4 linked regions of the Homo sapiens genome follow. The protein of the gene in region 2 interacts with the protein of the main gene of each other region in a pairwise test. Each region holds a gene or a part of one and is shown on either strand. Other genes may lie near its edges. The genes, in order: BEND7, EAF1, ARID4B and TNFAIP8.

The links.
Region 1: the proteins of EAF1 (region 2) and BEND7 interact in binary tests that used the Homo sapiens proteins (3 or more experiments, as listed by UniProt).
Region 3: the proteins of EAF1 (region 2) and ARID4B interact in binary tests that used the Homo sapiens proteins (3 or more experiments, as listed by UniProt).
Region 4: the proteins of EAF1 (region 2) and TNFAIP8 interact in binary tests that used the Homo sapiens proteins (3 or more experiments, as listed by UniProt).

The regions. Positions count from the first base shown.
Region 1 is NC_000010.11:13,518,995-13,526,032, reverse strand, and holds part of BEND7 (BEN domain-containing protein 7), read left to right. Parts: intron 1-7,038.
Region 2 is NC_000003.12:15,437,595-15,443,148, forward strand, and holds the end of EAF1 (ELL-associated factor 1), read left to right. Parts: intron 1-1,514; coding exon 1,515-1,561; 3' UTR 1,562-5,019; downstream 5,020-5,554. UniProt on the Homo sapiens protein: Acts as a transcriptional transactivator of ELL and ELL2 elongation activities.
Region 3 is NC_000001.11:235,166,402-235,171,217, reverse strand, and holds the end of ARID4B (AT-rich interactive domain-containing protein 4B), read left to right. Parts: intron 1-2,565; coding exon 2,566-2,693; 3' UTR 2,694-4,316; downstream 4,317-4,816. UniProt on the Homo sapiens protein: Acts as a transcriptional repressor. May function in the assembly and/or enzymatic activity of the Sin3A corepressor complex or in mediating interactions between the complex and other regulatory complexes.
Region 4 is NC_000005.10:119,352,076-119,359,025, forward strand, and holds the start of TNFAIP8 (tumor necrosis factor alpha-induced protein 8), read left to right. Parts: upstream 1-3,943; 5' UTR 3,944-4,015; coding exon 4,016-4,046; intron 4,047-6,950. UniProt on the Homo sapiens protein: Acts as a negative mediator of apoptosis and may play a role in tumor progression.

The sequences.
Region 1 (7,038 bases), on a different chromosome or scaffold from region 2:
ATGTATGACATTCTTTTCAAGACCTTTTATTTTACAGATTGCCAATATATCCCTTATTAACATTGCTAAAAGTTGTAATTTCAGACATAAATGTTTATTAGTGTCTACACACAGTGCTAATTATCACTCACTCACAGAGCCAGATGCTGACTGTGCAGTTTTGTGGCTCTGCGCTCACCCCATTTACATTGCATATTCGTTGGCATGCTTCACTGGCAATAGTTTGTGTAATTGGGGTATTACATCTTTGACATCTGGATAACAGAAATTCAATTTCCAGGAAGCTGCTATTTGTTTGGTTTTGCTTCTGCCTTGGGTGGGATAGAGGATTAATGTGCTGTCTTATAATGTCCCTTCACCTCTGTGGCCCAGTTGCTAATCCTGCCATGACAAAATTAAATTAAATCTACAGTCAAAAAGCATAAGGAAAATAAAAGTGTGACTGTCTGCCTAACCAGCTCTTGATAGTGCTAGTTATCATCAAGCAGCTCCTCATTTTCCTGACTTTGTGCTCCTTTCACACCAGCATTTTGGGACAGGGGGAACAGCATGCTTTCCTCTTACCATCCTTGTTCCCAGCTCACGTCAGGGATGAGCAGAGCTAAAACAGCATTTCTGAGACTTTCCAGCAAGTGTAGCTGCATGATGGGTGGGTAGGTAGCCACAAACATTGCCACCTTTTCCATGTGCAGTGTTGGTGCAAATACTGTACAGGAAAGACTTTGGATGTGCAGTTTTTTATTTGCACACAATCAGCCAAAAATGAAACCACGTAAGATTTTGCCTCTAAGAGTGAAGTACCCATAAGGTCAGGGTGGAGAGTAGATGGTGGCGTTGGGCCTCAACCTTGTCCATCTTGGACCTCTGCAATCCCAGGTAGCAGGGTGAGGGCACAGCACTGCACAGCAAGGAAGCAGAACATGAGAGAGGTCAGAGCGAGAACGATTACAAGCAAAGCCACAATTACCCCATCAAGGGGGACTTCAGGTAGCAGGACTGCTGCTCAGACCCGGTGTGGGTCAGCCTTCAAACGAAGCTCTCGCCAGGATCTCTCTGGTTTTGCTTTGAGGGATAGAAAGGGTGGGTCGGGATGCATTGGGAAGAAGTCAAATATTAATATATACTTTAAGAGGAAAAATAGGAGGGAAATGTCAGCATTTCTTACATGAGCGATCATTGATAGCACATAGATCTTTCTGCTGAGGGAAAGAATATCACTGGGGCCAGCACTGCTCCCAGTACCTGTTTACTGTTAAGAGAGCTAGGAGCCAAAAGGTTAATAATCAAGTGAAATGCTGTGGCCCAGAAAGAGAATATTCTTGGATTCTAGTCTTTCCAGTCCCCTAAACTTGGTCAGTTGGAATTCTTTTTTTTTTTTTTTTTTTTTTGAGACGGAGGTTCACTCTTTTTATCCAGGCTGGAGTGCAATGGCATGATCTCGGCTCACTGCAACCCCTGCCTCCCAGGTTCAGGCGATTCTCCTGCCTCAGCCTCCTGAGTAGCTGGGATTACAAGCACCTGCCACCACGCTTGGCTAATTTTTTGTATTTTTAGTAGAGACAGAGTTTTACCATGTTGGCCAGGCTGGTCTCAAACTCCTGACCTCAGGTGATCCACCTGCCTCAGCCTCCCAAAGTGCTGGGATTACAGGCGTGAGCCACCGTGCCTGGTTGGTCAGCTGGAATTTTGTATTATCAAAGTACCACTCTATATAGCCATTCGAAATAACGAATTTACCCTTTAGTAGAAAATTTACGTTCACCATACAAAGGGAACATCATGTCCTTGATTTAGTTCTCCAGCAAGGCAGGCTTTCCCGCACTTTCTGTTGTGTACTACTAGAAAAGTGGTAAGGTCACTACGAAGGAAGTGAATTGTAAGGATAAGAGAGGGGAAGCTGAAGAGCAACAGGATGCTAGTGCCCAGGATTCAGTAAGCTGGAAACTCCCAGAGATGATAGACGTTGTTGCTTTTCTTCTTCCTAGTCCAAGTTGAGGAAGATGCAAGAATTCCAATGAAGGACCAGGCTTGAGATAGATACGCTTTCAAAGTGGTTGCTCCAGAAGGCCTTCAACATCAAGAGACAAAAGATTGAACAGCCTGGGAGTGTGCTGTGGGTTATTTTCAATCTTTTGCTCATTCTTGGGTCATCATGTAGTTGGTTCCCAAATAACATTTTTATTTTGTGATCTCTAGGTCAGTTAAGAAAAAATAACAGAAATTGTCACAGCAACATGATTTCTGGAGCAATTGAGAATAGTTACTGATGGCATCTGAGAGTAGGAATTTTTTGTTGACAGTGTTATAGTTTATAGTTTTATAGTTACACTTTTCAAAACATAAAGATTTCAATTATGTTTATTTTATAAATTGCTAAAGCCTGTCCATAAAGATGTAGAATTATATGGGAAGCTTATGACATCCAAGGGGGTTTGGTACCAAAATACTAGAACTCTTTCCCCTATAACAAAGTACTGACACACTGTCCCAGGGATGGTCTATAGGATTTTCTACATTCAAACATATGTGTTCCCTTTAATAGTATCTGCATCTATAAGATCAAAGTTTATGTTCTAGGTGAAAAAGAGTCTTCTAGAATGTGGCAGAGGTTCCCACATCAAGTCTACCTCTCTGGAACATGTTTAGGCTGTTAACGAACGTAGTGTATCTCACATGGTAGGGTAGCTCAGTAGTGTAAATGGCTTGGCCTCGTGCTTTAGGAATTACTCACATATTTTTAATTGGATAATAGGGTCAGAAGACGTTACTTTACCCTGTGGACATTGACTTTCTCAAGCTGGCTGTGATGGGACTACAGTGAAGATTTAAGCACTGTTTGAAAGGAAACAGTTCTCTTAAATCAGTTCAGCCAGTGTCTTTATAGAAGATACTCTGAACTCAGCACTTTTCTGGAATGGGAGTGGGGTCAGAGATAGTCACAGAAATGGATAGGACAGGGACCTTGTTCTCAGGGATTCAGATCCAGCTGGGGAGGAGACAGGACAAATTCAGGAAACGGAGCAGTATTCAGCAATCGTAAGAGCTACAGTTGTTTGAGCACTTAACTGTGTGCAAGGCAGCACACTGAGCACTTTACATGAAAGACCTGATTTGCTCTTTGCAGCATGTCTGTATGAGTTACCGTCATCCCCATTTTGTAGATGAGCCTAGAGATGTCGAGGTGACCTGCCCAAGGTCTCTCAAGTAGGAAGTGCCACAGGTAGGGTTCCAGTGCAGGTCTGTCTGAGCTTTGAACACTCCACTTAACCGCCTGTCTGTGAACGGTAATTAAATGACAAATGTGAATGATCAGGGCAACAGCAAATGCAGAGTTGGAAGGGGTAGAGGGGAGGGCTCTGCAAAGCAGAGATGTTGAACTACAGGAAAGATTCGCTCCTGTATTTCTCCTCCCTGGAGAAGATTCCAGGTGGGAAGGGTGAGGGAGCCGCCAATAAGCATCATTATAGCTCGACCATGAGTGTTGCACTTATGGTTTAGAAAGTGCTTTCACATCTGTCTTCTCGGGATTTTTACCATATACCTGTGGGGTAGTCAGGGCAGATATAATGATTCCTATAATGATGGGAACCGAAGCTCAGTTACCTGACCTCACGAATAGCAGAGGCCGGAGTAAACCCAGGCCTCCTCTCAAAAGATCTTTCCCCTCTGCCCTGTGGAGCCAGGCAAAGCCAAGGCTCATGGAGGAGGCCTTAGCTGCTAGCAGGGCACTTTTAGAAGGATTTTAATGAGACAATTAATTTATTATTCATAGCAGTAATGCAAATATAAAATGAAGTCTCTTTTCACACATTGGATTTTGGGTTAGATTTATCATAGTATGTACATTGGAAACATGTTTATCTGTCAGGTGTTCAGTCTCATTCATTTATTCATTCAACAAATTCATTGCGCTCCATTTACATCCATGCCAAGCCCTGTTCTAGTTATTCTTTTTAATATTCAGTTCAGTTATTCAGCTTCCCATAGATGAAGCACACAGTGTGGCAGCCATGCCAGCTGAGCAGGGTCGACATCTCTGAAACTCTGAAGTCTCTTTTCAGTGGCTTTCTTGATGACAGCTGCACCCACTAGAGTCCCCAGAATCTCCCCAAAGAGGACACACTCGAACAATTCCTCTGCACTTTTACAAGTTAGAGAGTTATCTCCCAGCCACGACATCGTTCTCCTCCCTGGAGGACTCGGCAGGTCCGTCTGTAAAATGGAGGAGGTCTTCACCTGGAGTCAGGTGGCCTGGGTCCCACCCTGGTTCTTGGTTGGTTTCAAAAGGCTTGGGAGCTGAGCCCCACTTCCAAGAGGAAGAAGGGTCTAGTGTGTCACCATACCTGGGGCAGGAGTTGCAACCTCAGAGGAAATGAAGGGCCAAGGGGGAAAAGTGGAACCCCAAAATCCCAGTATGTGGAAGCAAGTGCTTCCCCTCTGTTCCTCCCCACAAAAGCTCCACCTTCAGCACCCTGGCCCCACTGTGTCCTTGTGTCCCTGTGCTCCTTCTTGTAAGTCCTCTCCTTTTTTGGTGGTGGAATGAATGGGACAGATGACCAGGAGTGTCTCTTGGGGTTAGGTACGTGGCCAGTAATAGTGTTATTTACCCAGAGCTTGCTGTGTGCCAGCACTATGTAAAGGACTTTGTAAATGTTATCCCATTAATTGTCCCAAGAAACGTGTTGTTTTTCCCTCTTTATGGATGAAGAATTTGAGGAGTTCACAGAGTTACTCAGTGCCAGAGCCAGGATGCAAGCCAGGGTCTGCCTGTCTCCAAAGCAAGCCCTTAACCGCATGGCAGGCTTTGTTCAAACGTGCTCCCAAGCGGAACCCCCAGTATGTCCAGCAGATCAAAGGGGAGCAGAGCTGCTTGAAAAAAGGTCGAGGAGACCCAGAGAGCCTTACGTGCATTTCACATTCCTCTGTGGGCCTCTGCAGAATGTTAGGGCGCCCCCAGTCACTGTTTTAAAACTCCTGGTCTAGACAGTTCCCAAGGCTTCATACAGCACCTGATTTGTCCGATTATACTCTAGGACCGAAAAATGGCTTCAAAAATAATTGCAAGCAAAGTCAAAGTTTGGAGAGCCTCTTGAGGGAACTTAAATACCGATGGCTTCTTTCAATTTATGTGCACATAAACATATGTTTCGGTAGCTGTGGATGCAGAACTTGGTCGTTCTCACGTATGACTTGTTGCCTAAAGTCTGGGAGGCATTTGTAGTTAGGCCATCCGGGCACTCCATCTCTCATTTAGTTTCTATTGCAGCTACACTGTGAGGTTGCTGTTGGGTCGGCCTCATGTTTTACAAATGGGAACCTCAACTCAGGGATGAAAGTGATTTGCCCAAGGCTACATGGTCATTAGTAGCTGACCACACTTTCCAGTGGGGTCTCCTGACATCCACTTCTGAGTTCTTCACCTTGTCAGAGCTGCCACAGCTCCTTGCTCCAATCTGCCCACGTGGGCTGATCTCAGTACGTAACTTCTCACCCTCTCTCCTGCTTAGAGACTTCAGCTCCCTTGTCATGGGCCTAGAATCAAGGCAAAGCCCTTCACTGAGTGTCTAGTATGCACGGTCTGACCCGACCCATCTCCCTGTCCACAGCTTTCATGTAACCGCCTTCCCTTGAGCCAACCGGCTTCCTAAACCAGGACTTCCAGGTGCAGAGGAGGCACCACAGGGAGAAGGAATGGGGTGGGCAGGAGCTATGGCCTGGGAAAGCCCCTCCTGCTGGGAAGAAAGGAGCTAGGGCTTGTTTACTGCCTCCGGTGTGTGCTGGGCACTTCCGAACTTTATCTCATTTAACACTGAGACCAGCTCTGAGAAGGTATTGTCATTTCTACTTTTATATGAGAAAAATGGGCCTTTAGAATTGTTAATGTACGTAAGGTCATAGAACTAGGAGACAAGAGCCTGGATCTGGAATTTGGACATGGCCTGGCCACGATCTTTCCACTGTACCATGCTGCCTTGGAGGAGTGAGGCCCCGCTCTCCTCTCTCTTTCAGTTCGCTGTCTGTTTCTAAACCGCCCTTCCAGCCTTCTCTTGCTCTTCACCCTCACTGAAAACATGTGCTGTGTCAAACTGATCACATCATTCCCTCCTAAAGCACCTTCCCATTCTCATCTCTGCCATTTCACTGCGGCTCCTTCTCCATCCTAGCCTCCTACCATTCCTTACCCCATTTCCAAACTCCTTCTAGTAAAATCCTGTCTCTCCTATCGGTTTTTAAAGCTCAATTCAAATATTACCTTGGCCTGTAAGCCGCCTCAGTTTACATAGCGTAGCAGAGAGAAGTTGGATTTAGAGTCAGAAAACCTTGCTTTGAATCTCAGGCTCCAGTTCTAACACCTTGGATAACACTCTTGAGGGGTTTTCCTCATCTTCTGTAATAGAAGAATAACGTTGGCCCTCCTGACGCACATGCGAAATCCTGTATGGTAAAACGCTTTTTCAAACTGGAAAACACTGTATTTCTGTTTTTATTACCCCATTCTCTCTCCTTCTCCCAGATTTAGGAGTTATCTTTTCTTTTTTTTTTTCTTTCTTTTTTTTGAGACGGAGTCTCGCTCTGTTGCCCAGGCTGGAGTGCAGTGGCGCCATCTCGGCTCACTGCAAGCTCCACCTCCCGGGTTCACGCCATTCTCCTGCCTCAGCCTCCCGAGTAGCTGGGACTACAGGTGCCCGCCACCACACCCGGCTAATTTTTTTGTATTTTTTTTAGTAGAGACGGGGTTTCACCATGTTAGCCAGGATGGTCTCGATCTCCTGACCTCGTGATCCACCTGCCTCAGCCTCCCAAAGTGCTGGGATTACAGGCGTGAGCCACCGTGCCCAGCCTAGGAGTTATCTATTCTTCCGATCACTTGGGCACTAAGTAATAACATTACTCTTTTCTGGCACTTACCATGTGATGCCTAATATTTACTTATTTTTGTGTGTGGCTTTATTGTGCTCAAGTCACCCTGCAGATCCTCCTCCGAAACTTAACAGCTGCCACATTGAAATGTGGTTGTTTATTTTCAGGACTCTCCTA
Region 2 (5,554 bases):
TTAATGCAGTTGATACTAAAGTAAAACAGGAAAACAAGAACAAAAATTTATTTGTTTTGAAGGTGAACAGAGGGCTAATTTTCTATGCTTTTCTCTTTTTGGAACCCTGATGAATGTTCTCTCTTGGTACACCTTCCTTTAAGGAAGTTGGAAGGTCTAGAGGTAACAGTGGGGAAGTTAACCTAGTTAATCCAACTATTGTGGACCAGGCAGAGATAATCTCAACCTCAGCACTATGGGCAGTTTGGGCAAGATAAGTCTTCTTTGTGGGAGGTTGTCCTGCACATTGTAGGATGTTTAAGAGCATCCCTGACGTCTACCCACTAGATGCCAGTACCAGTCTCTTCCCACCTCCCCAGCCCCATGACAACCAAAAATATCTCAAGACATTGCCATTATATGCCCCATCTTTAACATAGAGACTGAAGTATATGAAGAAAATCTGGCATTCTAGGTAGTTAGAAAAGGGGTGACCTCAGGATCAGACCCCCCTGAAAGGGTTTCATGGAACCCCGAGTCCTCAGAATAGACTTTGAGGAGAACTGGCCTAGAGATTAGCAATTTGGAAATAAAGAAAATCACTTTTGCTACAAGTGGTATCAACTGGGGTTCTGTTATATGTATTCCTATTGTATTAGATTGAAATGTTAAGTAATTATATTCTTCTAAATTCTGCCTAGTAAACAGGAATCTGGGGTTTTGTAAAGCACGTTAGTTCAGATTTGAAATTTAAGATAACGTGACTATCCTGGACAGAGGTGTGCCAGAGCAGATACTGCATTAGCATATTACTGGTGTTAACAGTATTCACCTTTCTTAATGGGAAGCCTACCGGATATTTTCTTAAGTTGCCTTTATAAAGCAACTTAATGTGATCAGTTCTTCCGAATGGTGATCAGTTATTTTAAATATTTTCTTTTTTTTTTTTTTTCTTTTTTCTTTTTTTCCTTGAGACAGTCTCACTCTATCGCCCAGGCTGGAGTGCAGTGGTGCAATCTTGGCTTACTGCAACCTCCACCTCTTGGGTTCAAGCGATTCTCCTGCTTCAGCCTCCCAAGTACCTGGGATTACAAGCATGTCCCACTACACGTGGCTGATTTTTATATTTTTAGTAGAGATGGGGTTTCGCCACGTTGGCCAGGCTGGTCTCCAACTGCTGGCCTCAAATGATCTCCCTGCCTTGGCCTCCCAAAGTGTTGGGATTACAGGCGTGAGCCACTGCGCCCAGACATATTTTAAATATTTTCTTGCTATTTATTAAACCATTTAAAAGTTATCCAGCTTACTTCTCCTTTGCTCTACCCTAATATGCAGTATTGTTGTGCTTTGTAGATAACCAAAAGCACCATTTTGTTTCAGTGAGCCAATTTGATTTTCTTCCCTAAGTTGAATTAACAAGGTTTTACTGTAGTGTGATAGCCAAGGCAATTAACAAAAAATTATGAGGAAGTCATTTTTAAATTCTGTACTTTTGTTTGATTCTATGATTTTACTTTATTTTTTTTTTTAAATAGGAAATGACTTGCAGTTGAGTGAGTCTGGCAGTGACAGTGATGACTAGTGCTGGATCTTTCGAAACCTACTTTTTGGTGCACAAACATGCCGCAAGACTGAGCTACTTTGGCGTGGAGTCCATTGCAAGAGGAAAATGTTATGGATCAGTGACTGTAGTAGGAGTTTGAGGCTCTGGAACTCTCACATATTCAAGTCTTTAACTTAGTGGTGATGGGTGATTTTCTCGTGTCATTTTTGAACAATCTCATCTTTCAAAGTTTAAGTAGACCTGTAGAAGAGCTAACAGAATTATATTTCTATTTAGTTAAAATTGTTAATGAAAAACAGATAAATGTGCCCTGGTCTAAGTTACTCAAAGGCCATATCTTCACCAGGCCAGAGATTCAGTTTTAAACCTCAGCAGCCATCAGTTTGGCCAAGTGGTTGGTACCAGTGGAATGAAGTCTTTGATGGGTAGGAGAGAGAGGGAAAACCTCAAACTACATCATAGAAGTATGTTAAAACCACTTTAAATTGTTGACACAAAGTGGTAAGGAAGTTTTGTCTGACTCAGCCTGACAAGCCTGGATAGAAATGGACCTCAGAATACAGAATGGAGTCCTTGAGTGTCAGTTGGTGAGGACCATGGAGTCCTGCCAGCTCAACCTGTCATTTACAGACTAAGAAAGGGAAGTACACACCTGGCTTGTGGCCAGTCTCCTGCCCCCTCTCTGGGCTTTCCTCACTGTTCTCTCCCTTGAATCTCATTTGTAGGAATCAAGAGATTCCTATACATGGGACTTTTAGATGTACATTGGCACTTGGATTAGATTCCAAAAGACAAAAGTGTTGGGTGCTTCTAGCTTGAATTCAGTCCCTAAATACATGAGGCTGGGTGAGCAGATGAAACCGGTAGCCACTGTGCTGATGCATGTGACTCCATTCAGTTGGGGATTTTGGTTCCATGTGGATCCATACTAAGTATTCTTCAGTCAGTGGATTTTAGCAAGGGGAGGTAGGAGTGGAAGAGAGGTGTGAAGAAACCTCTCCGAACAAATGAACCAGCAGTAAGTTTCTAAAAATCAGAATCTAGATAGAAGTTCTGCAATATGAAATGAGCACATTCTTTGATAAGGCGTATCTATTCATGCTTTTGTACCACTGTTTTGTACCTGACTCCCTGACCGATTTGTATTTTTTATATACAACTAGAAGGAAGTCACAAGATTGCCTTCTACAGTGTGCCATTTCCAAATGGATCTGTTGTTGGAGGAAACTGGTTGCTAGTCAATGTTCTATATTTAATGAATGTGTGATAAATCATCCTGTAATCAGTATGGAGTAACCTGTTTTTGTAGTTTGGATGAATATGTCCTGAGAAATTTCCATCCACTTTGGTTCAGCGGACATCAAGGTAGTAATAATAATTTTTCCTCCACAGGTCCCTCCACTCATATGGCCTCTCCCTCCCCAGCTAGTGGAGGGGAAGCAGTCTGGACTTAGAAAGGAAATAGGTGGTCTGTCATAGGGGCTTTCATTAGAGTTAAACTTCATAGAGTCAACTGTTTCATCATCATAGTGAGCCCAGAGAGCCACTGCCCAGCAGCATGCTCACACCACCTACCCTAGTGTAGGTAATAGGTCTACGCTAGGACCCCGTGCTGGGCTCTCAGCCCATCATGAGATTTTGGTGGATTTAATGGCAGGTAGGAACTTATTTATAGTGGATTGATAATTGCTTTATAATTCCTTGGTAATGACAGCTCAGGGAAGGTTTCACAAGGTCATGATCAGGAGACTTGAATTGTTACTGGATGTAGGAATTGTTTCACTGCTCTTAACTTGCTCAAACTGGGGCAGGTTCCAGGAACTTGAACTAAAAATATCTATTTAAGCCTCTCTCTCTTTCTCTCCTCCCCAACTTTTTTCTGAAAGCCTTGATTTCTGTAGACAGAACTATGGTTTTTGGCATGTTGGGTCAAGACGTGTTTCTATAGGAAATGCTTGCACGTGGCACTGGCTTGGTGAGTCAAGCTTCCTGAGCTTCAGACCGTTTGTCCTGTCATCTGTCCTGCCCAACACTGTATGGTTTTTCTCTAGCACGGCTTCAATTTTGTTCTCTGCACAAAGCCTTTGGTGGTTCTGCCCTCTGCCCTCCAGCTTTACCCACCAGAGTAAGCAATCTTTTCTTTTTAGAAATCAAGAATTTGGCTTCACAGATGGCTTCTCACAGATGCCCTCCTGCCAGCCAAACCGGACTTGTTCTTCCTGCCTCTGTGCCTTCTCTCATTCTCCTTCTCTCCCTCCATACCCCACTTTTGAGGTTCTGTGGGTACCATCTTTGTGGACTCTTGTCTTTTTTTTCAACCCACATGGAGTGCCCTGTGTGTACATACTGACCTTTTTTTTTTTTTTTTTTTTTTGCTTGAACTCTGGTCGGTATGAGCTCCTTAAAAGCAGGTACTGGGCTGGCTGTGGTGACTCATGCCTGTAATCCCAGCACTTTGGGAGGCTGAGGTGGGAGGATTGCTTGAGTCCAGGAGTTTGAGACCAGCCTGGGCAACATGGCGAGACCCTGTTTCTACAAAAAGAAAAAGGGAAAAAAAAAGCAGGGACTGTCATTCTCATCTCCTCCCTGGGGTATCCACAGGAATGGACATTCAAATGGTTGTAGCCTGGTGGGGTAGAAGGCAGAGAAGACTACCCAGCCAGTGAAGTGCAGAGGATAGACATAGGAAAACATTCCAGGCATTTGGAGACAGCTGAAAGTATCCATGCTGACTTTCATGATTTAGAAGTCTTTAACTGAATTATTAAAATTGCCTTTTTTTTGTGCTGTACAATGTCTACTGTACTGTGGGTCATTTAGATGAGATGAAAAACTTAATTAAATCTGAAGTGTCAGAGGCGCTTAGTAAGCCTTAGTAAAGTTGTGATTGAAGAAACTTAATACAAATGAACTAGAGGTTTGTAATCATGCCACTCACTAACGATTTTATTTCTGTAGCAGAATCATTTTTTCTATGTAAGGTGTTAATGTGTGTGTATGTGCTTTGGTTGTAGGAAAACTTGAAAATTCCAAAATCCTTATTTTCCTATTTGAGAGGCTGGTTCAGCAGGGTGTGTGTGTGTGTGTGTGTGTGTGTGTATGAATGGTATATTTATTACATTATTTTGAAAGAGAATTAGTGTGTTATGTGGATAATGTTATATACAGCCAAAGTGGATGTTTCTATTTGGCAAGGAAGGTAGGATTTCTGAAACTCAGGCCTTAACCAATAGGTTGGAAGACAAGACCAATTGAAGAGTTAGGAAATGTGAGTTTTTGTTACTTCTGTTATTCCAGTCTTGGTTTCATTGTCTCATTCTTTATTTTTAAAATCTTGTGCCTAAAAGTTTTTTTGCTTAATTATGAAGTAGACATGCATGTTTACATTTATGTAAAATATTTGCTGTGTAAAGTATTTTTTGTTTATTCTCTTAAAAGATCACTATATTTAAATAAAAGTGAAGGTCAGCAACACATTTCTTGTCTTGGTGGGTTTCATTTTCTTTTAGAAATCAATGAGCAATATAGGGTTCTTTTAAGAACCTTCTGTGCTTAAGCCTAAATAGCTAACTAAATGGATTCCTTTTTAATTTGGTGTTTATAATCATTAGGAAGTATACCTCAGCTTTTAAAAGGTGTGACATTCAAAACTGAAGGACGAACTTCAGTTTTTAAAAGGTATGAAGTTCAAAACTGAATTACATCTGAGGCCATTTTACTTGGTCTGAGAAGGAGGGCTTAGTTTGGGTCTGAGAACCATGCAACAGTTAAACTGAATCCCTAGACATATCCTATTGTCATTTTAGTTTACCAGATTCCTTCTGCCTGGAATGCTATGCCACACACACCTCTGACTCCCAGCTGACATTTGGCTAGAAATCCTGACCTCCTGCTTCCATTCTCCACTTCTGCTTCAGCAGTGCTCACATTTACCTGTGGTCTTGGCTCCTCTGCTAGACTGTATAAACTTCTAGGTAGGCAGTGGCCATATTCCTTTTTAATTCGCTGTAG
Region 3 (4,816 bases), on a different chromosome or scaffold from region 2:
CTTCGTGATCCGCCTGCTTCAGTCTCCCAAAGTGCTGGGATTACAGGCATGAGCCACTGCGACTGGCCCAAATAAGGTATCATTCTTACCAAAAAAATTAAAACTAAAACCAATGCAGGAACAGTGTAGTGAAATATATAAGTTATGAGTTGTAATATAGTAGAATATTACTCAACTTTGAAAAGAAAAGGATCTGTATGTACTGATATGGAACAATCTCTTAAAATATATTGTTTAAAAAAAAGTCAGACACTGAACTATGCTTCCACTTGTGTGTGTGTGGTTTTTTTTTTTTTTTTTTTTTTTTGAGACGGAGTCTCGGTCAGTCACCAGGCTGGAGTGCAGTGGCGCGATCTTGGCTCACTGCAACCTCTGCCTTCCGGTTCAAGCGATTCTCCTGCCTCAGCCTCCCGGGTAGCTAGGACTACAGGTGCGTGCCGCCATGCCCAGCTAATTTTTGTAATATTATTATTAATTTTTGAGACAGAGTATCTCTCTGTCATCCAGGCTGGAGTGTAGTGGTGCAATCTTGGCTCACTGCAAGCTCCGCCTCCCGGGTTCACGCCATTCTCCTGCCTCAGCCTCTCTAGTAGCTGGGACTACAGGCGCCCACCACCACATCTGGCTAATTTTTTGTATTTTTAGTAGAGACTGAGTTTCATTGTGTTAGCCAGGATGGTCTCGATCTCCTGACCTTGTGATCCGCCCACCTAGTCCTCCCAAAGTGCTGGGATTACAGGTGTGAGCCACCGTGCCCGGCCTCCACTTATGTTTTTAAAGGTGTTGCTATATCTATATATTTTAAATTTGCATATCATATCTCTAGATTCTAGAGATAAAATTCCTGTAGAACAGGGGTTGCAAACATTTTCTGTAAAGAGACAATAAATATGTTAGGCTTTGTGGGCCATGTGGTCTCTGTAGAAACTACTTATCTCTGCCATGGTAAGTGTGAAAACTCCCATAGGCAATATGTAAACAAATAGGCATGGCTGTGTTCCAGTACAATTTTTCTTTCCAAAGACAAGTAAGCCAGATTTGCCCCTGGGGTAGTTTTTTTGCCAGCCTTTTTTCTAGAGTTGTAATGAATATGAATCAACTGGTAGCAATGGGGAAGGGAATTTGGGTGATTAGGAGGTTCCTGGATGAGAGTGAGATTTGCTTTTCTATCCTATTACCCCTGTACTGAATGAATTTTTTAAATCTGTGCATGTATTTAAAAATATTAATTTATGAACACTAATTTATAACAGAGAGGCCGGGCGCAATTGCTCACGCCTGTAATTCCAGCACTTAGGGAAGCCAAGGCAGGCAGATCACCTGAGGTCAGGAGTTCGAGACCAGACTGGCCAACATGACGAAACCCCATCTCTACTAAAAATAGAAACATTAGCCGGACATGGTGGCGCATGCCTGTAATCCCAGATACTCAGGAGGCTGAGACAGGAAAATTGCTTGAACCCAGGAGGCAAAGGTTGCAGTGAGCTGAGATTGCACTGCTGCAGTCCAGCCTGGGCAACAGAGCAAGACCCCCATCTCAAAGGAAAAAAAAAAAAAAGGAGGCTGAGGCAGGAGAATGGCGTGAACCTGGAAGGCGGAGCTTGCAGTGAGCCGAGATCGCACCACTGCACTCCAGCCTGGGCGACAGAGTGAGACTCCGTCTCAAAAAAACAAACAGGCTGGGCGCGGTGGCTCACACCTGTAATCCCGGCATTTTGGGAGGCTGAGATGGGCGGATCATGAGGTCAGGAGATCGAGACCATCCTGGCTAACATGGTGAAACCCCATCTCTACTAAAAATACAAAAAAATTAGCCGGGCGTGGTGGCGGGCGCTTATAGTCCCAGCTACTGGGGGGGCTGAGGCAGGAGAATGGCGTGAACTCAGGAGGCAGAACTTTTAGTGAGCCAAGATCGAGCCACTGCACTCCAGCCTGGGCGACAGACAGAGCGAGACTTTGTCTCAAAAAACAAACAAACAAAAAAAAACGAAAAAAGGAAACAGTGAGAGACTTCCTCTGATGAAAATAACTAATGTGTTATTTGCTTTGTAAACCTAGTGGCGGAGAATGCAACAGTTGAGCTATGCACTGTTTTGATCCAACTTGAAGAAGCAATTAAGCCTCCCACTCTTGTCACCATTTACATGTACAAGAAAACTCCTAAGTACAGAAAGATGGAGGGATTAGGAGGGGACAAATGATTTTTGGATGGATTGCAGATTTTTCCTGTTTTGATACTTGTTTCACTGTTACAAAAAGTGTATTCTGTATTTTATTTCTGTGTCTTGTAGACTAGGCACAGTTCTTTCCCTCTTTGACCCACGCAGGAGCCTTCCCTGGTCTGTCCTTTTCATTACTTCTGTAGTTGGGCACTGTCTAGCTTCTTGAGCTACACTAGCTTTTCCTTTCTTCACATCGTAGAACTGTGAGAATTGACCACTGTTGTTGTAAGCTAAATGATTTTGGACAATATAGCGGAATTTTAGTTCAGAGGACTAGTATTTTCTGTCTATTGTTAGACATAAATTTTTATTAAGCTCTTGGTTTGGTCTCCCTTTTCCTTAGGTGCTGCTACATCCTCATCCTCCTCTTCACCTTCATCCAGTTCCATAACAGCTGCTGTTATGTTAACTTTAGCTGAACCGTCAATGTCCAGCGCATCACAAAATGGAATGTCAGTTGAGTGCAGGTGACAGCAGGACTTGCTAAAGCACTTTGCACTTAATGGCTGTTGAGGGCCACTTTTTTTTTATACTGCACAGTGGCACAAAAAAATATCAGACAAGCACTATTTTATATTTAAAAATTGTTTCTTGACAAGCTGACTTGGCACTTAAGTGCACTTTTTTATGAAGAAAAAGTACAATGAACTGCTTTTCCTCAAGCAATAATTGTTTCCAACTTGTCTGGGAATTGTGTGTCTGGTAACTGGAAGGCCTTCCACTGTGGCAAATGGAGGCTTTTCACTGCCTGTAGAGACAATACAGTAAGCATAGTTAAGGGGTGGGTCAGAACATGTTAAGATAACTTACTGTATATGTATTCCCTTGTATTTTGTTAAAGCTGGAACATTTGATATTTTTCCATTTATTTATGAAAAAATATGAACCTATTTTCATTTGTACAAGGTAATTGTTTTTTAAAGCAAGTCACCTTAGGGTGGCTTTAATTGTATAAGTCAAGCACATGTAATAAATTCAAAACCTGCAGTTAACAGGATATTAGACATCAATCCTGGTAACCAAATATTAAAGATTCTCTTTAAAAAAGACTGAACATGTTTACAGGTTTGAATTAGGCTAAAAGGTCTTGCAGTGGCTTTTCATGGCCCTTCAAATTGGAATGGAACTACTGTACTTTGCCATTTTTCTATAAATCAGTATTTTTTTTTAATTTTGATATACATTGTGTGAAAAAAGAAAATGGCTAATAAACTGTATTAAATCTTAAACAATGTATAAAGATTGTACTTAGCCAGTTCAAAGTGTATATTTATTCATAATGAATTATAACAGTTATATTTTTGTGTTTTCTTGTAAATGTTTCTTTTCCCTTAAATACAGATAATTCATTTGTATTGCTTATTTTATTATGAGCTACAACAAAAGGACTTCAGGAACAAGTAATGTATTAGTATGGTTCAAGATTGTTGATAGGAACTGTCTCAAAAGGATGGTGGTTATTTTAAATATAAATAGCTAATGGGGGTGGTAGGCCTATAAAATTAAATGCCTTGTATAAAATCCAAAATGAATGCAAAATTGTTTTCACTTGTATTGACTTTATGTTGTATGATTCCAATCTCTGTTCTGTTTGGCACTTGTATTTAATTCTTCACCTTTGTAAGACATTTGTATATTGTGGATGTGTTCATTCAAGCTATTTAATATCTGGCACTGTTAATACACAGTACTTTATTGTACAGACTGTTTTACTGTTTTAATTGTAGTTCTGTGTACTTTTTTTGGATGGGGCTGGCATGTTTTCTTTGTTTCCTGGCAATACGACGTGGGAATTTCAATGCGTTTTGTTGTAGATGCTAACGTGTCAGAATCCTTTACATTCAACTTTTCTAAGAAAAGCATTTTCAGTCTTGTAGTGTGTGCTTACAGTAACTAATTTTGTTGAAAATGGTTTCAAGTTATTCAAATTTGTACAGGACTGTAAAGATTTGTTGACAGCAAAATGTTGAAGAAAAAAGCTTATAGAATAAAAGCTATAAAGTATATATTAGGATCTGCAAACAATGAAGAATTATGTAATATATTGTACAAATGTAAGCAAAGGCTCTGAAATAAAATGCCATAGTTTGTGAATCCTTGATTTTTGTTTCTAAAAGATTTAGTAATTTTAGTTCATTTCTGTATGTGATGACTGACTGGAACATACATATCCAGCACGTATTATCACAGGGGATTAATTGATACACAAAAAAAGGAAGATTCTACCTATGAAAATTAAAAGTCCATTAATCAGATAAGGAATGTATTAGGCATTCTTTTTTTTTTTTTTTTTTTTGGACACGGAGTCTTGCTCTGTCACCCAGGCTAGAGTGCAGTGGCGCAATCTCCAGCTCACTGCAACCTCTATCTCCCGGGTTCAAGCAATTCTCCAGCTTCAGCCTTCCGAGTAGCTGGGATTATAGACATCTGCCAGCACTCCTGGCTAATTTTTGTATTTTTAGCAGAGACGGGGTTTCACCGTACTGGTCAGGCTGGTCTCAAACTCCTGACCTCATGTGATCCACCCACCTTGGCCTCCCAATGTGCTGGGATTACAGGCGGGAGCCAACACACCCAGCCTAGGCATTCTTTTA
Region 4 (6,950 bases), on a different chromosome or scaffold from region 2:
CTGTGCCCGGCCATAAATACCATTTTCTTAAGGCTAAGAGAGCCAAATAACCTGGGCCAGGGAGAGGCCATGGAGAGATACCCACTTAGGCTTACTTGTGTTATGGAAGGGTAAATGTAAATGTGTCTGAGGATAATAGGAAGAACTCAAAGCCTACAGGCCTAACCAGGTGAGACCAAGACACAGATCTCTCCCGCATATGGGGAAACAGGAGTGACAGCCAACTTTTTATATAGATCACGGAAGCCTTCGAAGGCTTTCAAGGGTGTAGACAAAAATGATACAAGAGAAGTTGAAGAAGGTCTCAAAGTGAAATTGAAGGAAGCAGATTCAGCCTCAGCAGGTTAGAAAAAAAAATGACCATTTTTGGTGACCTGAAGTTTTTGCGAACTAGAGGCTATAGGTCCATAACTAGTTTACAGAGGTGCTTCATATTTTTCACTGCAGAGAACATATAACATTCTTGAATGTGAGTGGAATATTTGATACCTCCTAATTAAAAGGTACCTTGTCTTCCCAGTTCTGCCGGCTGGCCTTCTAATTTGTGTGAGTCTGAAAACTCACTGATCTCCCCTTTTCTTAACAGACATCTGGGGAGCTGTGAGCAAAAGGCCTAAAAGTCAGGCCTTTAAAAAAAACTCTTTGAACAGCTTTATTTAAGGCATAATTTGGAAAGAGATTTTTCTGCTGCCCTGTGATAAAGTTCAGTCGAGAGTTGGTGTTAATAAACCTTCCTTAGAACCAAGGTGACTTGGAAAGTTGAGTTCTTTAGGTCTGTGGTCAAATTAACAAAATTATGTCAATAAGCCCCAGGTGAGTAGGGTCAATTTACATATGACACACACAAATATTTGATTATACCTCAATGAATGAATAAACCTTCAGAATCTTAGCTACCATTTTCATTCTTCCATCTTGACACAAAAGGTGGGAGTTCCATTATTAGACACTTGCAGGAGTTCAACATAGTATTTAAATTTAAGTACAGTTTGTTATTAAATGAGAAGTGTTGCTAACTTAGTTGCAATTTTGTATCAGGCGGGCGGTAATAGTTTGTTGGTATGACTTCCATACATGTTGCCATGTGAAGGATGTTTGGGGTGTTTCTTAAACATACAAGAATCAACAAGTCCCACCTACAGGAGATAACAAATCATTATGATGTACTGGACCATTATTCACTGGGGCTAAGAAGTAAATTATCCCCTTTTGAATAAAAGCACAGCAAAATCAAAATGACCTAGTACATATCTGAGAGCAGCAGAAGGCCAAGGGGAGCCCTAGAGAATCAGCTGCCCTTTGTCACCATGTTGCAGGGTAGGGGTATGGGGCAATGCAGCCTGCCCAGAGCAGATGGCTTTGAGGTTATACGGGAGACTGAGGAATGTACTTATTCACATAAAGCCTTTTAAAATAAGCTGAGCATTCATTGCTCTTGAGCTAAAACAGAGCATTCTTCCCCAAGGTGACTGCTTGCTTGCATTTAAATACAAAAGAAGTTTCTCTCCAGGCTTCCTGAGGCCGATGGTGAATGTTCAAAGATCAACGAAGCTAACATGAATCTAAAATGAATTATAAGGCTGACGGAGCGCTTGAACTATTCATTCAGCAGTTGTAAAACAAGTAGCACATTAAAGGACATGTATTTTAACATATCTTATGTGGTTTGTCCCCAGTTGGACTTGCAAAATGACATTTAATAAATATTTCTTGTAAGGGTACTTTCTAAAAGAAGAGAGTGAAAGTAATTCTGCTGTAGGCAGATTGGGCCTGAAATTTGGGTTGTCTGGATTTGCATAATCATCACCTTGAAAAGGTGTTGCTTTACCCCAATTATAGATCAGTGGAAGCTCTCTTGTGTAGCACACGGCCCTGGTGAGATCCCTTAAGATCTCTTGTGGACTATCTGTGGACATCTGGGTTGCAGTGAGGAAGGGCAAGGATAGATGGTATAGGGAGAGAGGGGCAGAATGTTGACTTGGGCAGGACAGGAAAAGCCACTTGTGACTGGTGAGGGAGCATTTCTTTGGGTTCAGAATCATCCTCATCTCAGTGTATCTCCCCATAAGTCTGAGATTACTGAGTGCAAGGTATACATATCAGCAGCTCCTGACTCAGGATGTGTGGCAGAGGGGACCATGAAGTTAACTGTGACTTTCGGAAGGGTGCAGTCTGTTACCCTTTCGGTGGCGAGGTCAGTTTCCGGGAGGCTCTGCAACACTGATATTTTCCAGATGTTTCTCCTCTTCTCCCTTCTCTGGCTGGCTATATCTTCCTCCCTTCATCCTGCTCTTTCAGTGAAATTGAGATAACATGTTAGAATCTTAGGCAGGTTAGAATCTCTCAGCAGTAGGATGTGATTTAATATCTAGACCTCTTACATTAATATTTATAATAGCCTTCACTGCTTGTGAATAGCATAAGCACTCTTTTCTGTTCAAAGTCAATACTGAAATAAAACCCAAGAGTATGTTTTATAAAAATTTACTTTTAATGGTGCAATGGTAATAATCTATGTAGTCCTTATGGTTTTCAAATCCCTTTGTGCTTATATTACCTTATTTAATACAGACATAAATCTGTGAAGTAAATAATACTATTTTTATCTTCATTTTACAAATGAGGAACTGGAGGCTCAGAGAGGTTAATTTGCATAAGGTCATACAAATGATAGATGGCAGAACTGGATTTAAGTTCAGACTCCTTAAATCCATGTCTTTTGTACGTTCTTTTCACTAAATTTGCCATAGTGTTTCTATTGGTTTTTGCCTATATAAAATCGGAAACGAAGAAAAAGAAACGAACTGGAAAATAAATTTGTCAAAAGAGTATATTTTTTTCTCATAATTTCCAAGCGGATCTTTCAGATATGTTATTTGAGGACTTTTTGCCTCAGACTGGCGATAAAACAAGTGTTCTACAAAATACCTCCGTAAGACAGGCCTATCAGTGGCAGCTCTTGTCCCCGCTTTGCAGAAGGGAAAACCAAGGCTCCACAGAGCTAAGGGGACTTCCTCTCAGCCAATTTGTAGGGGCCTGTGGGCCAGACCCGGGGGCAGAATTGAGATCTGTTGTGAAGGCTGTCCGGCTTCTTTATTCTATCAGCATTTCAAATCCTGAAAACCTCCCCTTTGGCATTTTGAAGGAATTCATCCCCAGTTTTTGCTGGTAGCCGGGAGGGAACCGTGCTCTCCCCCTGAGGAAGGCCCTTTGGAGTAACTGCAGCAATGAGTGCCCGGGCTGTGCTTGGAGTACCAGTGCTCGCCCGGGGCTATACTGAATGAGTAAGCAGCCCCGTCTGCTTTTGCTGTGCAAAGGTAAGGGTGGAGGCCGCTCCACTTTCTTCAAAAGGCCCCGCTCTGGGACTTGTGAAATTGTGCTCTCTTAAGCTGGTCCTTGCAACCCCATGGACGATATCCATGCGACTTTCCTACAAAAATAACATACCAAAGCCGCTTTAAAATCCGTAATTTTTGGGTTGCAAGACTCCAAGACAAAGTCAAATGGGCATCAAAAAATGTAATCCAAAAATACAGAGGCATTGGTTCTACCCTATATGCATTTGCTATTTATGTAAAACTACAGTGTGCTCTGAGATGAGACTTTTTTTTTCTTTTTATACCTTTTTTTCCGCCCGTCTGGTGCGTTTGCCGACGGTTCTTCTCGGCCCTGTGTCTCGGGAGAGTCGGCTGCCGTCTGGGCCTGTGCCCCACCTGCGTGCGCCCGGGCCGAGCCAGCCCCGCCAGGTCGCCTCCGCCCGGCTGCCGGCCCGAGCGCGCGGCTCCGGGGGCGGACTCCCGCCGCCCAGCTGACACGCGATTCGTCACTCTTGCAGAACTTTCCCCCTGAAAATCCCTGCACCAGAACCCGCTCTCCCGCCCCGGGGAGGTTTTGATTTTAGTGGCTTTCTTCCTTTTATTTTCCGTCGTGTGCGGATTTCGCTGCAGAGCGAACTTGCGGCTCGTCCGAGTACATGTGAGCGGTAATCGCCCCTGCAGCTGGTTATCCTGACATTATGCACTCCGAAGCAGAAGAATCCAAGGAAGGTAGGATTCTGGTTTCTCCTGGGGGCCGGCCAAGTTCTGCGGAGGAATTTGGAGGAAGGCAGTGGTAGAAGAGGATGGGAGTTTTAAAGTGAGCGGTGGGCACTTTGTCCGCTTGCCCTGCGCCTTCGAAGCCAAGTCGGAGCTGGATAAGCGGAGCCCGGGTCTCATCTTGGGCTCCCTTCTCCCCCCGCAGCCGTTCAGAGGGGAGGGGAGGAAAAGTCGGACCTAGTTCAGCCAGCCCACTAAGTCTGCTTTTTAGCTTTCTCTGGAAACGAAAGAGCCCCACTTGGACTCCAAGAATGCAAAATGTGCTTGGAAAAGGGCTGCCTGCCTGCATCAGAAAGACTGAAAGCGGGATCCCTGGAAGAGCCCTGAGTGGAGGGTCCCTTGAAAAGGGGTTTGAGAAATTAGAAACGCTATATGTTTCCGGCTAAAAGGGGAAGCTGAGTGAGGGGAAGCGAAAATCTGTATTTGAGAAATAGATTAATTTTTTTTCATTGCTGGGTTTTCAGCAGTGAGTTCATTTCGTTGGGGGTTTGAGGGGGCTGAAAGATATGAGGGGGTCCTTGTGCAGCTTGAAACTGAGAAGAGTTTGTCTGTTTCTAACTTCGCAAAAGCAAAGGGTTTCATTTACTCCTAACAGAGAACAGGTGACAGGGCTGGAAAAGCTCCAACCAAAACACAATTATACGCTGGTGTTAGTTTGGGGAGTTTATTTGTGTGTGAGTGTTTGTATGCTTTGTTCCTTGAAACTTTATGTATACAAAAGTTCTCTTGTAAGTGGGGGGTGGGAGTAAGGGTGGTTGGGGAAAATTAGAGAGTAAGAGAGGAGACTATTCAAGATTGTGAAATACTCTTTCTTTTCATGTAGTCTCTTGGAAAGCTGGTTAATTTCAAGTCAATCACAGCAGTTCTGGCAGAGGAGCAGCCCCATCATTTCTCCATTTGGTAGACACCAGTTAGGAAGAGCCCTTGAAACTTGTCCTCTTCTGCCTTTTACTGATTCCCCTCCCAGAGGAAAGCTTTGTGTTTCACCATGTAGTCTTTGTGGGCTCACGTTTACCTTATTATGCTGTGTGAGGGAAATAGTCAATAAAAAGGAGGTTTGTTTAATAGAAATACGGGGCTGGCATGAATGAAAAATGACAGCCAGGAGCATTGTTTTTGAGTTTGATGTGGAGTATGGGGGGAGTAATGCTTTCTTGCCGTGTCCTGTGTTCTGATGGAGCTGTGTGCTGATAGATGCTTTTCTTTTCTATGTCTTTATACCAGCAGTTTATTCAAAGTCAAAGGTAGTTGAAGGCAAATAGGAACCAGGCTGAGAGAACTCAAGGGTGAACTTCTGTGTGAATTACAAGTAGCACTTAAGCTGGCGTTTTCTCTCAGGTGTGTTTTCCCTGTCTTTTGAGAAAGAGAGAGTGGGAGAGAAAGTGGAAAAACAGTATCCCAAAGTGTGTATTATACATTCCCATAGCAACATCCACAGTCTTCCCTCCTCGAGGGCCCAGCTCTCTGGTTTTAAGTTTGGAAGCAGCCTGCAAACTGGCCTATGAAGAGGTTAATGGGGCCCCTTCTGCTTGTTCCTCACCTTCCCTCCACTTGTCATCATTTACATTCTGCAGATCGGCCACAAATGATATGGCGCTCTGCTTTTTAAAGAAAGCCCAGAATGTTTCTTTTAAAATAATCTGAGGTAGTAGAATTTTAAATTGATAGCAATTAGGGTGGGATACTGAATAACTCTTGAGGGAGATTGAACACTTTATTAATCAGATAGAATCATATAGCTTCTGCCAGGAAATGAAGGATAGGTGTCTGTGTGTTTTGGGTGTGTTTTCTCCAAGGCTGGTTCATTGGCTGTAATCTAGAACCTTCTGGTTAGCTACCACCACTCAGATGTCGATGAAGCGAGCTATGTTGTGTAAATAACTCAGTTATCTTCTCTATCGTTACTAGTCCTTTTCCTCTTATACGTAGCTTTTTTTTTTTTTTTCATCCTGGTGAACTTATGTATCCCATTTAGTGTGAGATCACCATGAGTTCTTAAGAATGTCTGTATTGCAAGAAAACTGCCTTTGGATGCTTCATGCCTGATACGCTGTAAGAGGAGATACTTTTAAGTCATTTTTCTCAACTGTAGTGAGAGACTAGTATACTTTGGGGTTGAATCTAAGTCCTTGGAGGCCAGCATATTTTTGCATATGCGTGAATGTAGAAGCAAATGACTGGGGATATTGTTAAGCCATCAGAGCTTAAAACATACTTGACTCTGTGCCAGGGGTGCTGGATATTTGTCCCCAGCCTATAGCCATCTCCTAAATAATTGATTTAATTTTTCCTGCTTAACAATGAATAAGTGATTGTGCTTGGGTATTAAACAGAGAAAAATAATCCAGGCCTTGCTTTATTAAAAACTGAATGAGTTTAAATTATTCAGACATAGAATAAATAGGAAAGAAGGGGAAATGAAAGAAGAAACTCACTTTTTTAAAAAGGTGACTACCATTAAAAAGAGGATATCAACAGTTTCCAGTGGATGGGGCTTCCTGAGGAGATAGGCTGATAGCCGTGTATTTGGCATTTAGTTGTTTCCTGAGTAAATTGCTTAATTATGAAGTAGTTAAAGTGAGTGGCAGTTGAGATCTCTGAGAATCTTTCTAGTGCTAAGCATCAAGGCATCCAGGGCTCCTTTGCTCTGGATGTTGAAGCATTGATACCAGAAATTGAGAAAGCCATTGTTAAGGGGTGGGCGAGGTGTCACTTTGTGGGGACTTGGAAAAGAGTGAGGATTGAGTGGTGAGTGAGTCTGGCTCGCTCCTCCATTGCCCATAGTAGCCATTTCCCACCACCACCTCACCCAGTTCTTACTCTCATGCCTCACCAGGCCTGCTATTTCACAAAGAA